2 linked regions of the Homo sapiens genome follow. The main gene of each other region encodes a partner of the protein of the gene in region 2 in a complex. Each region holds a gene or a part of one and is shown on either strand. Other genes may lie near its edges.

The links. Proteins that work in one complex are often made in the same cells at the same time.
Region 1: the proteins of NELL1 (region 2) and ROBO3 are in contact, whole or in part, in a crystal structure (PDB 6POL), measured with the Homo sapiens proteins. Residues at the interface, in NP_006148.2 of Homo sapiens: Ala440, Lys441, Met442, His443, Tyr444, His446, Tyr458, Arg468, Val469, Asp470, Asp471, Phe472, Ser473, Asp478, Ile492, Cys493, Thr494, Asn495, Thr503, Cys504, Lys505, Pro506; in NP_071765.2 of Homo sapiens: Ser553, Pro555, Val590, Glu592, Phe594, Pro596, Asn600, Thr601, Trp602, Thr604, Ile624, Leu626, Arg630, Gly633, Ala634, Trp635, Gly636, Leu637, Ser638, Glu639, Pro646, Val647, Arg648.

Annotation. Positions count from the first base shown.
Region 1 is NC_000011.10:124,875,432-124,881,996, forward strand, and holds the end of ROBO3 (roundabout homolog 3 isoform a precursor), read left to right. Parts: intron 1-132; coding exon 133-254; intron 255-522; coding exon 523-694; intron 695-750; exon of another isoform or gene 751-843; coding exon 844-1,029; intron 1,030-1,382; exon of another isoform or gene 1,383-1,501; intron 1,502-1,729; coding exon 1,730-1,753; intron 1,754-1,835; coding exon 1,836-1,878; intron 1,879-2,087; coding exon 2,088-2,227; exon of another isoform or gene 2,228-2,321; intron 2,322-2,505; coding exon 2,506-2,700; intron 2,701-2,866; coding exon 2,867-3,005; intron 3,006-3,152; coding exon 3,153-3,365; intron 3,366-3,758; coding exon 3,759-3,910; intron 3,911-4,033; coding exon 4,034-4,144; intron 4,145-4,355; coding exon 4,356-4,517; intron 4,518-4,986; coding exon 4,987-5,177; intron 5,178-5,807; coding exon 5,808-5,819; 3' UTR 5,820-6,040; downstream 6,041-6,565. UniProt on the Homo sapiens protein: Receptor involved in axon guidance during development. Acts as a multifunctional regulator of pathfinding that simultaneously mediates NELL2 repulsion, inhibits SLIT repulsion, and facilitates Netrin-1/NTN1 attraction.
Region 2 is NC_000011.10:21,554,575-21,561,599, reverse strand, and holds part of NELL1 (protein kinase C-binding protein NELL1 isoform 1 precursor), read right to left. Parts: intron 1,412-7,025; coding exon 1,218-1,411; intron 1-1,217. UniProt on the Homo sapiens protein: Plays a role in the control of cell growth and differentiation. Promotes osteoblast cell differentiation and terminal mineralization.

The sequences.
Region 1 (6,565 bases), about 100 Mb from region 2:
GTGAGTGGGTGGGAAGGAGGAATGGCTCTCAGTTCCCTAAGATGTTAGAACAGGGAGGGGGAATGTTGGGGCAGGAGGGGCAGCTTGCAATGACTATTTGTGTCCTTCTCACCATGCTCCACCCTGGCCCAGCCCCCAGTGGCCCCCCACAGGGAGTGGCGGTGGCCTTGGGGGGTGATGGCAACAGCAGTATCACTGTGTCCTGGGAACCTCCACTCCCCTCCCAGCAAAATGGGGTCATCACGGAATACCAGGTAGAGGGATTGAGGAGGGACTGGATGGGAGGGCCAGGCCGGGAGGGAGAGGGAGGACCTAGTGGCTAGAATTAGGGTGGAGGAAATCTATTACAGGTTTGGCTTTAGGGTTGGGGATGAGTTTAGGGGAGAAGAGAGAGGTTTCCAAGTGTTGTTTCCAGGTTGAATTACATCTGTATAAGGCTTCTCTACCATTTGGAGCCTTAAGTTTCCCGGTGAGGCTAAGAATCCCATTTCTGACTCTAAATCCGGGACTCGGCCTCCCTAGATCTGGTGCCTGGGCAATGAGAGCCGCTTTCACCTCAATCGATCTGCAGCAGGCTGGGCACGCTCCGCAATGCTCCGAGGACTGGTGCCCGGTCTCCTCTATCGAACCCTGGTCGCGGCGGCCACCAGCGCAGGCGTGGGCGTGCCCAGTGCCCCAGTGCTGGTGCAGCTGCGTGAGTCCACCCGAGGGCAGTGCTGAGGATCTTGACGGGGGCGGGGCAAGCCCCCCACTGGGGTAGCTGTGCCTGCCGGGTCGGGAATGACCCTTTCCCAGTTCCAGGGTTTCGGGCCCCTCCTCCCCTCACTTCTCTGACCCCCACAGCGTCCCCGCCGGACCTGGAGCCCGGGCTGGAGGTGGGCGCGGGGCTGGCGGTGCGGCTGGCGAGGGTGCTGCGGGAGCCCGCCTTCCTCGCGGGCAGCGGCGCAGCCTGCGGGGCGCTGCTTCTCGGGCTCTGCGCCGCCCTCTACTGGCGCCGGAAACAGCGCAAAGAGCTCAGCCACTACACGGGTGAGCTCCCGGCCTCGGAGCGGACGGATCCGGGAGGGAGCCAGGCGGCCCATGGGGAGGGGCAGGGGCTTAGCCGCTGGCGAGTGAGGACCGGGTCGGGAGAAAGGGGTCGCACCTGGAGTTCAGCCTCTTGGGTAGGGGCGGGATACGTGGGGCGACTCGAGGAGCTGCCAGGACTAGGGAGGGCTGCGGGCCAAGACGGGGCGGGATCTGGATGACGTTTGCCTCTAAGACGCCACGAGGAGGCCAGGCTTTGCAACCATCTCCATAAAGAAGGGGCAAGTTCGAGGACGGAAAGCCCACTCAAAGGGCGGGGGGCGGGGCCTGGCAAGAGGGGGTGTGGCCAGGATCCCAGGCAGTAAATTGTGCGGCGGGGTCTGGATGGAAAGGCGGGGCCCGCTGAAAGAAGGCGATCCGAGTTCTGCTACTTCCTAGTAAGGGACGTCTCTGGAGAGATTCTGAGGTGTTTGAGGTCAGTGGTTTTCAATCTTGGTTGGCTACACATAGGAATCACTTGAGGGGCTTGAGAAAAATACCGACACCTGAGTCCCACCCCCGAGAAATTCTGATGAAATGGGTCCAGGGTGCAGCCTGAGTGGTGGAACTGGGACCGGGGCCTAGGCGTGGACAAGTATAGGGGTATTTCTGACCCTTCTCCTCATTTCACCTCTTCTTTCTCCCACGGGTTCCTTTCTGGAAGCCTCTTTTGCCTACACACCGGCAGGTAAGCCATCTCTGCCCCAGTGGGGTTCAGACCCCCCGGGACGGGCCCTTCTCTCACTCATTCGCCCCCTCATTTTCCCCAGTGTCCTTCCCGCACTCAGAGGGCCTCTCTGGAGCCAGTTCCAGGTAATTCTCTTAGCCCATTTCCTCAGGATGACCTCCACCGACAGGCCACTCTTCTTCCGCCCCGCTGACGCCCCAGGTGGAGGGAGCATGGCCACCTCCCACCCCAACACCACCGCCACTGTCCTGAAACTCCCGAATATCGCCACCTCCCTTTCCTTTGCTGGCCTCTTCAGGCTCTCCGTCCCCAACGCTCACCTGCTCTCCCTCAGGCCACCCATGGGCCTTGGCCCCGCCCCCTACTCATGGCTGGCAGATTCGTGGCCCCACCCATCTCGAAGCCCCTCGGCCCAGGAACCCAGGGGAAGCTGCTGCCCTAGCAATCCTGACCCGGACGACAGATATTACAACGGTGAGGAGTTCTCATTCCCTCACCTGGCTTCAGCGCACTTCTCCCGACCTACTGGGGCAAACCGAAGGGCGCCCGGGAGCCCGGTCTCTCTGAGGTTGGTCAGTCCCTGGGGAGGATGTGAGCTGGGGAAGCCTCTCAGACCTACCTCCACCCTGGTTTAGGATGTAAGGCTTGTGTGGGGGAAGAAGTTGATCCCGTGGGATTTCCCTTTGTCTTCCATTCTGTTGTCCTCTATGTTTCTGTCTCTGCTTCCGGGCCTCCCTCTTTCTTCTCTGCAGAAGCGGGAATCTCCCTGTATCTAGCTCAGACGGCCAGGGGCACGGCCGCCCCTGGCGAGGGTCCTGTCTATAGCACCATTGACCCAGCGGGGGAGGAGCTGCAGACCTTCCATGGGGGCTTCCCCCAACATCCCTCAGGAGATCTGGGTCCCTGGAGCCAGTACGCTCCTCCAGAGTGGAGCCAGGGGGACAGTGGTATGACTCCAACTCCTGAAACCCCGTTTAGCCCTGACCAGGGTATCCCCAAAGAGGATCCTCCTCCCTGACCCTCTGGCACCTAGCCCGGCACTTCCTTCTGACCTGTCTCATCTCTGGCTCTTTCCTGCCTGTTCTCCGGGTGTCCCCATCCTATTCTCCTCAGGAGCCAAGGGAGGCAAAGTGAAGCTTCTGGGGAAACCTGTGCAGATGCCCTCTCTGAACTGGCCAGAAGCCCTGCCCCCACCTCCTCCTTCTTGTGAACTGAGCTGCCTAGAAGGGCCGGAGGAGGAGCTGGAGGGCAGGTAGAGATGCTCCCTGCTTCCAGGCCCACACACCTGCGGCCAGACCATGGGCTGCTGGGGAGGAAGGGGAGGGGGCAGCAGGAAGGCCAACGGGAAGGTATGGAAGCAGCTGAGCCCTTTCCTTCTCTCCTGCCTCTTTGATCCCAGCTCAGAGCCAGAGGAGTGGTGCCCGCCAATGCCTGAGAGAAGTCACCTGACGGAGCCCAGCTCCAGTGGAGGGTGCCTGGTCACCCCATCCCGAAGGGAAACCCCCTCTCCCACACCTTCCTATGGACAGCAGTCCACAGCCACTCTTACACCCTCACCTCCTGACCCTCCCCAGCCCCCAACTGACATGCCCCATCTCCATCAGATGCCCAGGTAGGGAGGTATATAGTACCTCACTCATTGCAAGCCCTCTATACGTATCTACTCAGTAGATGACTGGGTGGGTGGATGGATGGATGGGTGGATGGATCTGGGGTACAGAGGTCTCAGGGCTGTGTCAGGGTGGAAGTGTAATTTGGGCAGGAATATGGAGGCTGACAAGATCTCTCATGCCCATTAGACTGGCTCTTGCTGGAGTGGTCAGCACTCTACCTGAGACATTTCAGATATGGCTCTCCTTATGCTTCTCTAGCTTGGGAGGACTTACGGGCGGACGGGTTGTGTCTCGTTTATCTGTTAGGTTGATTGTCTAGCACAGTGCCAGGCACATAGTAGGCATTCAGTTTTTGTGGAGGGAACAGAGGCTGCGGCCTCCTGTCATTGCAGGAGGGTGCCCCTTGGGCCGAGTTCCCCTCTCAGTGTATCCCAGCCCATGCTGGGCATCCGTGAAGCGAGGCCTGCTGGCTTGGGTGCTGGCCCTGCAGCCTCACCCCACCTCAGCCCCAGTCCTGCCCCTAGCACAGCCAGCAGTGCCCCAGGTAAGTCTCTACAACCTCCTTTTGCCCCCCGGCTCCCTCCAGTGCTTGCTTCCCCTTCACCCTTAGGCCTTTTTCCTGATTTTTGCCCTTACCCATTCCTCTTCCCGTCTCCTAACACTGCAGGCAGAACCTGGCAGGGGAATGGGGAGATGACTCCCCCACTTCAAGGACCCCGTGCTCGATTCCGGAAGAAACCCAAGGCTCTTCCCTACAGGAGGGAGAACAGTCCTGGGGGTGAGGGGGGATGCACCTGGGAGATGGTGACAGTAGTGGCGGGGGGATAGGCAGGAAACCAAGGGTGCACTCTGGGGGCTGGAGGAGGGAACAGGTGAACCCCAATCTTGGGCTGTTCATTGGCAGCCTCCTGGTGCCAGGGAATGCAGGTGAGAGAAAGATTAGTGACAGGAGTGGCAGGAGGCTCCGCTGAAAACAGCTCCCTCCCCAGACTTGCCCCCACCACCCTTGCCACCGCCAGAGGAAGAGGCGAGCTGGGCCCTAGAGCTGAGGGCAGCAGGCAGCATGTCCTCCCTGGAGCGGGAGCGCAGTGGGGAGAGGAAAGCGGTCCAGGCCGTGCCCCTGGCAGCCCAGCGGGTGCTCCACCCAGATGGTAAGCAGGGCCAGGGCAGGCAGGAGGGCTGCTGCCACAGGAGACTGTGGGCTTTGGGACTGGGGGCTGATAGTAGACCAGCTCAGCCCTCCCTTTAGTTAGGTTCATGCATTTGATCCACATCAAACTCCCCTGTCTCTCTAACTCTCTGAGCACAATCCCCTGAAGTCCCAAGTTGTGTTCATTCCCAGGATGGAAGCCCAGATAAGAGGACTGGGCTCTAGGTGCTCTGTCCCCGCTCCCCACAAGGCTCCCTCTGATTGGGAGCTCCCCCGCAGCGTTCTGAGCACCCATGATGTCAAGGCCATGTGCCGGTCACTCTGCTGCTCCTCAGCCCCAGGCTGGCTGAGCCCTGTGCCTGCCCTTCATCTTCTTCCAGAGCTGAGCCTGTGGTCAGGGTGGCAGGGTGGGTGACAGGGAAGTTCTGCTTCCTGCCTGCACCTGGCTACCCTTCCCTCTTGTGCTGCAGAAGAGGCCTGGCTCCCATACAGCAGACCAAGCTTCCTGTCCCGGGGCCAGGGCACCAGCACATGTTCCACGGCCGGCAGCAACTCTTCCAGGGGCTCCAGCAGCTCTAGGGGCTCCCGGGGCCCTGGCCGGAGCCGGAGTCGGAGTCAGAGCCGGAGCCAGAGCCAAAGGCCAGGACAGAAACGCCGAGAGGTAGGGGCCATAGATTGCAGAAAAATGAGGGCAGAGGACTAGGGAAGGGTGGACCAAGGCGTAATGGAAAACAGGAAGGTGGGCAAGGGCTTGTGGAGGAGTGTCAAAAGGAGGGGATCGAGAGGGTGAGGGGGAGGGAGGAATCCTGTAGAAGTGACAAGGGGACTGAGCGTGGTGGCTCATGCCTGTAATCCCAGCACTTTGGGAGACCGAGATGGGCGGATCCCTTGAGCTCAGGAGTTTGAGACTAGCCTGGGCAATATGGTAAAATCCCATCTCTACAAAAAATACAAAATTAGCTGGGCGTGGTGGTATGCTCCTGTAGTCCCAGCTACTCAGGGGGCTTGAGGTGGGAGGATAGCTTGAGCCTGGGAGGTCAAGGCTGCAGTGAGCCATGATCACACCACTGCTCTCCAGTCTGGGCGACAGAGTGAGACTCTGTCTCAAACAAACAAACAGACAAACAAAACAAAAGAAATGACAAGGGGTGAGGACAAGATGACACATAATAGAGGAGCCTGGGCTCACCGTAGGAGAACTGGGTTAGGAGAGAGAAAGCCTGAGCCCTTCCTGGACTTGTTTGCCCTGGGCCAGGGTTTTACAAAACAGCATCTCTCTCTCTCTCCCTAGGAACCAAGATGACCCTTGTTGGGGCATTGAGAATATCATGAGTGCCACGGGGAAGGGGAGTAGGGATGTCTTTTCCCCCCCAGCAGTGATGAGTGGGGCTAGCTGAAGCCCATTGGTTTCCACGATTTCAATTGGCTGAGAAGGCAGAGAGCTAGCTCCTCCCTTTCTTTCTTTTTCCACCTGAGACTTGTTTATAAAAAACAAAACAATAAAAAGAGTCTGATCAGAGCCCAGGGCCCTGTCTGTCTGGTTCTGTGCAGCAGGTTGGGAAGAAGGGGACTGCAGGGTCCTGTATATCAACGCACACTGGTAGCTTCTGCTTCCCCTTCCACTCCGTCAAAAGCACTAAGTTAGGCCAGGCACAATGGCTCACACTCATAATCCCAGTGCTTTAGGAGGCTGAGGCAGGAGGATCATTTGAGCCCAGGAGTTTGAGACCAGCCTGGCCAACCTAGAAAGAACTTGTGTCTACACACACACACACACACACACACACACACACACACACACACACACACAAATAAATAAATAAATAAATAAATAAATTAGCCAGGTATGGTTGTGTGCACCTGTCATCCTATCTACTTGAGAAGCTGAGGCAGTAGTATTGCCTGAACCCAGGTGTTGGAGGTTATAGTGAGCTATGATTGTGCCACTGGACTTCATCCTGGGTGACAGAGTGAGACCCTATCTCAAAAACAAACAAACAAACAAAAAACTGAAAAAACACTAGGTGGGGACTGTACCGTCCTGCTTCT
Region 2 (7,025 bases):
AGTTCAAGTCACAGCTTAGACATTTATATCTTTAACATTTAGGGCAAGTTACTTTATCCCATGGAAATTCAGTTTCATTGTCTTTCAAAGTAGTGCTGTAAGAAGTAAACATGATGCAGCTTTTTTGAATTATAGGGTGGCTGAAATATAGCAGGTGCTCCAATAAGGGAAAACAAACCTAGATTGGAGTGTGGGAAACTAGGTTTATGTGAAAGGGGAAAAAATAGGTGTTGGGGGTAATGATCTAGCACTTGATAATGTGGCCCTCCTAACTAGGTGGCCCCAGGTCTGTGGATGTGTGGCAGATGAAGGCAAGTGGATGAACTGGATGATTTCTTAAGGCTCATTTCAGCTCTGTTTCAGCAGACTGGGAATTTATCAGGAGACTTGGCTAAGAGGCTACTAAGCAAGTAATTTATCTTGGTTCCCATGCACATAAAGCTCAAGATTAAATAGTCCCATCCCAACAGACATAGACATACCAGGCAAGAGCTACAGTAGAGCAATAACAAAGGAAAATAAATAGGCAAGATCAATAAAAGAAGAAATAAAGCACAAAGAGATCAAACAGTTTAATAGACCCATTTTGCAAAGCATAAAGCAAAACCAAATGATGACAGAATTTTATTTTCATAAGCATTAAGCTCACTTTCCAACAACTTAATATAAGGAATGGCCCAGCACTGAGAATAACAAAGAAGACATCAATTTCTAAGAGGCCTCATACTATCATTATCATTTGTTCAAAATGAAAATCCACCTGTCTCAGCACTGGATGCAAGTCTGTTGGCCTTGCTTTTCTAGATGATGTCATAAAGTGAGCAAGTTCATGCAGGTGGTTATTTTAGGCAAAGAGTAGTTTTAATCAGCAAGTTTGTATAAGCGTGGGATGAGGGCTCATTAAAACTCTCACCCAACCAACCTTAAAAGCACTGTAGGCTTTCAGTGGGAGGACTATCATTGGCTTTTCTACCCTGCTTCGCCTTCCCTGCAGTTCCTTCTCAATCTCATACCTCACTTTCCACTAAGAACACAATCAATTCAAAGCAGGCTTCCCTACCCCTTAGCATCATCATTAGCTGTAATGTAGATAAGAACAGGAGAAGCCTGTTCAGGAACTACAGTCAACAGCAAGAGGGAGAGAGCTGGGGAGGTAGAAAAGTGAGGGAAGAAGAGAAAGAACAGTTTCAATTTCTGCTGCACCACATCAGCCTCACCTTGCAGGAGCAGACAGAACACCTGTCTTCTTTCAAGGTCCACACCTGGCCATTGTGCTTCAGCCCCCCTTCATGAGGACAGTCACCAGAGCAGGAGGGCCCAGAGGGGCAGAGACAGTCAAAGCCCCCTGCCAGGTTGATGCAGGCAGAATCGTTCCAACAGGTGTGAGTTCTTAAGGCACATTCATCAATGTCTGCAATATAGGAAGCACAGAAGCTTAGAATCTAGCCAAGGGAACTTAGAGAACAAACAACCATCATTTGCAGTAGCATTAACTAACATCATCGACCATTTACCTTGTGCTAGGTACTGCCAAGCTGTTCACATGTATTATCTCATTTACACTGCAAGTCAGTTCTGCTCTGTGTGGGAGATCTGTCCTTATTCCTATTCTGCAAATAATGAAGCTGAGGTTCATAACTTAAATAACATGACCACTGTCATAGAGCTAGTAAGTGGCTGATCTGAGACCCAAATCTACAGCTAGCTCCCAGACTCTAATTACTAAAATATCCAGTAGCAGTTAGCAAGTTCTTTTAGGATATTCTTAAGAACGATTTCATCCAGAGGCCATAAACACTGTTAATTCATTAACAGTATGCACACACCACCATGGAGATCTGAGTCTTTTAGAAAAGATGTGAATGTATTAGCCACTGAGTAGGAACAAGTGGGCAATTTGGGCAACCTTGAGACAATCAGATTGCTCCTAGATCCTACCACCAAAGTTGAAGGAAGTGGGAACAATTCTTGATAGGTGTCTTTTATAGTCAAAGTCTTACTATCCTTATGGCCAGCAGAATATTTGCCCGTGCATAAAAAATAATTGCTATATGGATGGATGCTGATGAAAGACATAAATATATTGTCCTGCTCTTTATTGACAGCCAACAATGGAATAAAAACATAAATCCAGTCGGCCGATTCTGACATTTAAAGCTTGAGCGACCTTAACAACATCTCAAACACAAACCTGTCCAACCCTGGCTTAAGTCCTTCCCCAAAAGGCAATCCATTACCTTGCAAAATACCTGACTCCACCTTTGGATAACTCTTTTGGAAATGTCTCCCTTAAATTGAGATGAAATATACTACCGAGTAACTTCTACTCATTTGTAGAAGTACTGATACTTAGTGTCTGAGGCCATTGAATAAGTGTCTACTAGTCTACTTGGTTTTGGTTTACCTGCTATGCACAAGTTTCTTTGCACATGGTGCAATACAAAGCAGATGACATTAAGAAATTCTAATAATATTTCTAGAAGTTACTTTTTTCCAAGATCTAATTTTTGGCTTTGTCTTACCAATTTTAGCTTTAGTCAAGACATTTCATTAGTGAACAATGATTTCTCCTTTGAAAATTATAGAAAAGATCCCAAATTATGATGCCTGTATGGTAAGTCAACTAAAATCAAGCCTCACTATATCTCCTCACTGTTACTAGTCATGCCCATCCCATTCTCAGTGTATTTCTATTTGAACATATGGTGCTCCTTTCATATAGCCTCTCTTATCTCTTCAATCTTCTTTCAATTCTCTTATTCTTCTCAACTAAAAGGAGTTTTAAATGTGGGAGTCTGGTGACCAATGTTTGAAACCAAGCTCTTACTTTTTAGTTGAGTGCTTACCATGTATTAGTCATTTTACACGTAACAGTTATATATTCTTTGACATGTTACTTTGTTTTTCTCTCATTTATCTTCTATATACACTATACCCACTCAATGTATGGTCTTCCAAAAATTTTAAACCCAGCATAGCATATAAATGCCATCTAATACTGCAATTGTTATCTCTTGTCCCCTCCCTTTTCATTCAAAAGCAGTGAATACAAAATTTCAGTTAAATAGAAGGAATAAATTCAAGAAGCTCTATTGTCAAACATGATGACTGTAGTTAATAACAAGGTATTGTATGCTTGAAAATTGAGAATATTTTTGTCACAAAAAAGTAAGTGTATAAGGTAATATATATATATATATTATGTAGCTTGATTATTTAGCCATTCCAGAATGTATTCCTATTTCAAAACATCATGTTGTACACCATAAATATATATAAAATGTATTTGTCAACTGATTTTTTTTTAAAAAGCAACGGGAGATCCACAAAGAGGCCATATTGTTTCCTATGAAACAACTGTGTCTTAGAACATGCTTTCTTTTATTATGAGAGTACTCTCTCTCTTTCCCTACTTTTTCTTGTCCTATAGGGAATGAGGTGAGGTATCAATCAATTAATTGATAAGCACTTTCCTTCCTGTACTACTTTCACTCCTACGCAGTCTTAAAAATTCAGGTTAAGCCTCACCATCTCTTATATGGCAAGACAGTCACTACAGATTTTTTGCTTTCTCTGTACCTTATACACAATTCTATCCTGCATTCCTCTCTCAGGAGTTACGTGTTTAACTTGTCTACCTCCAGAGAGAGTGAGCTCATTGAGGGCAGACACTAAATTTTATTTTTCTTTCTCTTCCCAGTGCTGAGTATAACAGAATACTATATGGATATTCGATGTATTTATTCCATTTAACTTTCTTAGGAAATCCACAGACTGAGACTATTATAATGCCTACTTTGCCAAAACTCGGTCTTTAGAGTGTTCAACAAGCATAAGGCATAATCACAACCCTGCCCTTCAGGGAACACATTTTGTTGTTGAGTTCTCATCTGTGAAGGCCCTTGGGTCTAATTTAAAGTAGAAAAAATACAGCAAATTAGCAACCACATTGAAGAAGGGGCAATGCCCTGCCCCTTCCCCAGGAAAAAACTTTTATTTTCTGTCAAATGCTTGAGAACAAGGGCAGAGGAAGCATTAACAAATGGCTCCAGAAATTGTCTGGAAGTATAACTTCAACCCATCCACCACCAGTGGCTACAAAAGGGTTGGTAATTTATGGCTTTCTCTAAAAAATATCTACATTGACAACTAATGCCCAGCTATATTATGCTTTTAAAATATTTGGTTATTTTGCATTTACAAAGTTGCAAATATATTGGTAGTGATTTTCTCTCATAAATTAAGAAGGCTGAGCATAAAGATAAACATACCTATTGTGCACAATAAAAGCAGGGCGCAAAACCAGGATTTGCTTTCACTTCTCCAGAATGAAAAGATTTCACAGTTGAATATAGGACCATATTGCCTACAGAGTTCCATGTAATTGCTTTACTTATGACACAGAAATCTAATTCTGTTTCCATGCAATTTAGCAGATTTATGGAAAGCCAGATGTTAGCAATTATGGAAACCAACATTATTCATATTCTTAGTAATACAGACCTGTTTGCTCTGCACAAAGCCAACTTAATCTATTATACATATCCCAAGGCAGCCAACGGGAAGAGGCACCCTATTTACATATTGCAACTGTTGTTCTCTGCTGAGCAAACACAAAGTTATTCACCCGTGAGACTTACCCAAATCATCAGACAGGCCTCCCAATGACAAACAGGCAATGAAAGAAAAATTACACGAAGTATTTGAGTATTTCGTACTCAAATCTATTATCATTAGAATGTACTTGTTTTTCTTATTGTAAATAATGGCTGGCTGTGATCTCTCTGTGTTTCTTCTTATAAATTCATTATTTAAATGCTTCATGCTCGAATGAAATATTTTTTCAATAAAATTCCATGGCTAAGCTTGCATTAGAACTAATTTTCTTGCATTAACATTTTCACAATTTCTGAAAGCTGTTATTATTGTACTCAGTTTTGCTCTTTAAAACAATCTAGTTGTGCCAAGTCAATCTGCTTTCATCTTTGATGTGAGGTTTTTAGGTTACTTGGGCATGTAAGAAAATAGAATTCAGAGATGTTTATAACAGCAGCAATCAAACCAATCCTAAACTAGCTGCAAACAATTTTCCTACCCTTCAAGCCAAATGGCTCTGCAGAAATTTTTAATAGCATAACCACTGTATTAGTACTTGCCTCAGGAGCTAATACTTCTACAGGTTGATTTCAGAAATCAAAGTAAACATTTTACCAACAGTTTGGTAACAGGTCAAAGCAGTGAACTTTTTCATTACCCCATATTCCTCTTTCTTGAATAACTTTGACAGCACATCTAGTCTTATTTTCAAACTCAAAACAGGTGATGTGTCAGAAACAAAAGTTTACCCAGCGTTTGAATATACAGCTGTGTGTGTGTGTTCCTACCTGGAAATCATTATGAGTGGCTCAGAAATGAGAACAGAGCTTGGGGGTTCATTAATGACAGACAGTCTAGAGAACAGATCCCTCTCCAATATCTAAAGCAGTATTGCTTTTTTTACAGTGGCAGAGAGAAAATTATGGGGGAAAATATACACACTACACGTTAGCAAAATAAGTAAAATAAGTAGCGAATCTGAAGTCTGATGTAACTTGCAAAATAAAAGGCTAATGAAATTTTAACCTGCACAATAAATTTCAAATCCAGGCTAAGCGGTGGCAGCCATGCTCTATCATGTGCTGGCCATACCACACTTGGATATTGTGTTCCCTTTAGCACACAGACTATGAAGAATGAGGTTGACACAGTTAGAACACATCAGAAGAGATCCATTAGCGTGATGAGGAGCTCAAACTCATCTCACTTTGGCAAAACACAGGATGTTCAGCCTGAAAAGACAAAGACTAAAGGAAGAGATAAGTTAGAGATAGCTTCATCTATTTGAGATGCTGCTATGTATCTTTTAGGAAGAATTTTCAATACCCCTTTAGCATTAACTCTTCACTCACTGTTCCAGCCCCAAACCTTTCCTGAGTCAGGAAGAAACCCTTTCCTATGGTGTTCCCTTGTTTGGTGTATAATTTTCTTACTCTGCAATGACTCTTCCCCTTTCTTTTAATTAAGGAGACTCTCTTTTGACAAAGGAAAAATATAACACTGTTTTGGCTCACTATTTCCTTGATCCAGATTTTATTTCCTAGTATCTACAATTAGCAACTATCCGCATTTACTCATTTTCATTCTCTCCTGAATGTGTGCAAGCTTCCGTGGGACCCTCTTCTCGAAGGCTAAATCTTGAAGTCTCTCATAACCACTAGTTTGCAAAATCATCACCCTTGCTTAAAAAGTATTATAACAAATATTGTTATTGATTATTTCAGTCTAAGAGCTCTCTCTGTGACCCTTCTGGAATATAATATTGCCCTCTTCATCCTATTATCTCTTCATTATCTAGTCACTAGTACTCATCAATGAATAAATGAATTCCCTGCATATTTATTTAACATCTACTCTATGCCATTAACATCTACTCTATGCCAGATACACTGCTAAGTGCTGGAGATACAATGGGCAAAGAAGCCAGATATGGCCCTGTAAGTATTGACTTTATAGTTGTCTCTCATTTTAAAAAAATATTTGTATATCCTAAGTTTCCACGTCTGGTCCTTGTTTCTCTTTCTCCTTAGTGGAAGAAGTATAGCATACCAATTGAAAGCTTAACCTTTGTAATCCAGAAACTGCGGATACCAGTTTGCCTGGCACTGAGGGAGTTCCTGAGATAGCTGACTTTCAGTGCTAAAACTGAGAAAGTTCCAGCCCCATAGGGACAAGTGAGTCAACTCTGTCCCAGTCCATCCCTGCAATTTATTAGTTGTACGACTCTAAAAATTTACCTAACATCTCTGAGTCTTGGTCCCATTATGTAGAAAAATGTAGATAAAAATATACTCCATAGAATCATTTGGGTAAATACATAACGATATGCTTGTCATGTAATAATTGCTCAAAAATGATTAGTCACTATTATTGTTGGTCTTGTTCCTATTGTTTCTATAATTTTTCTCTCATACATTTAATCTCATTTA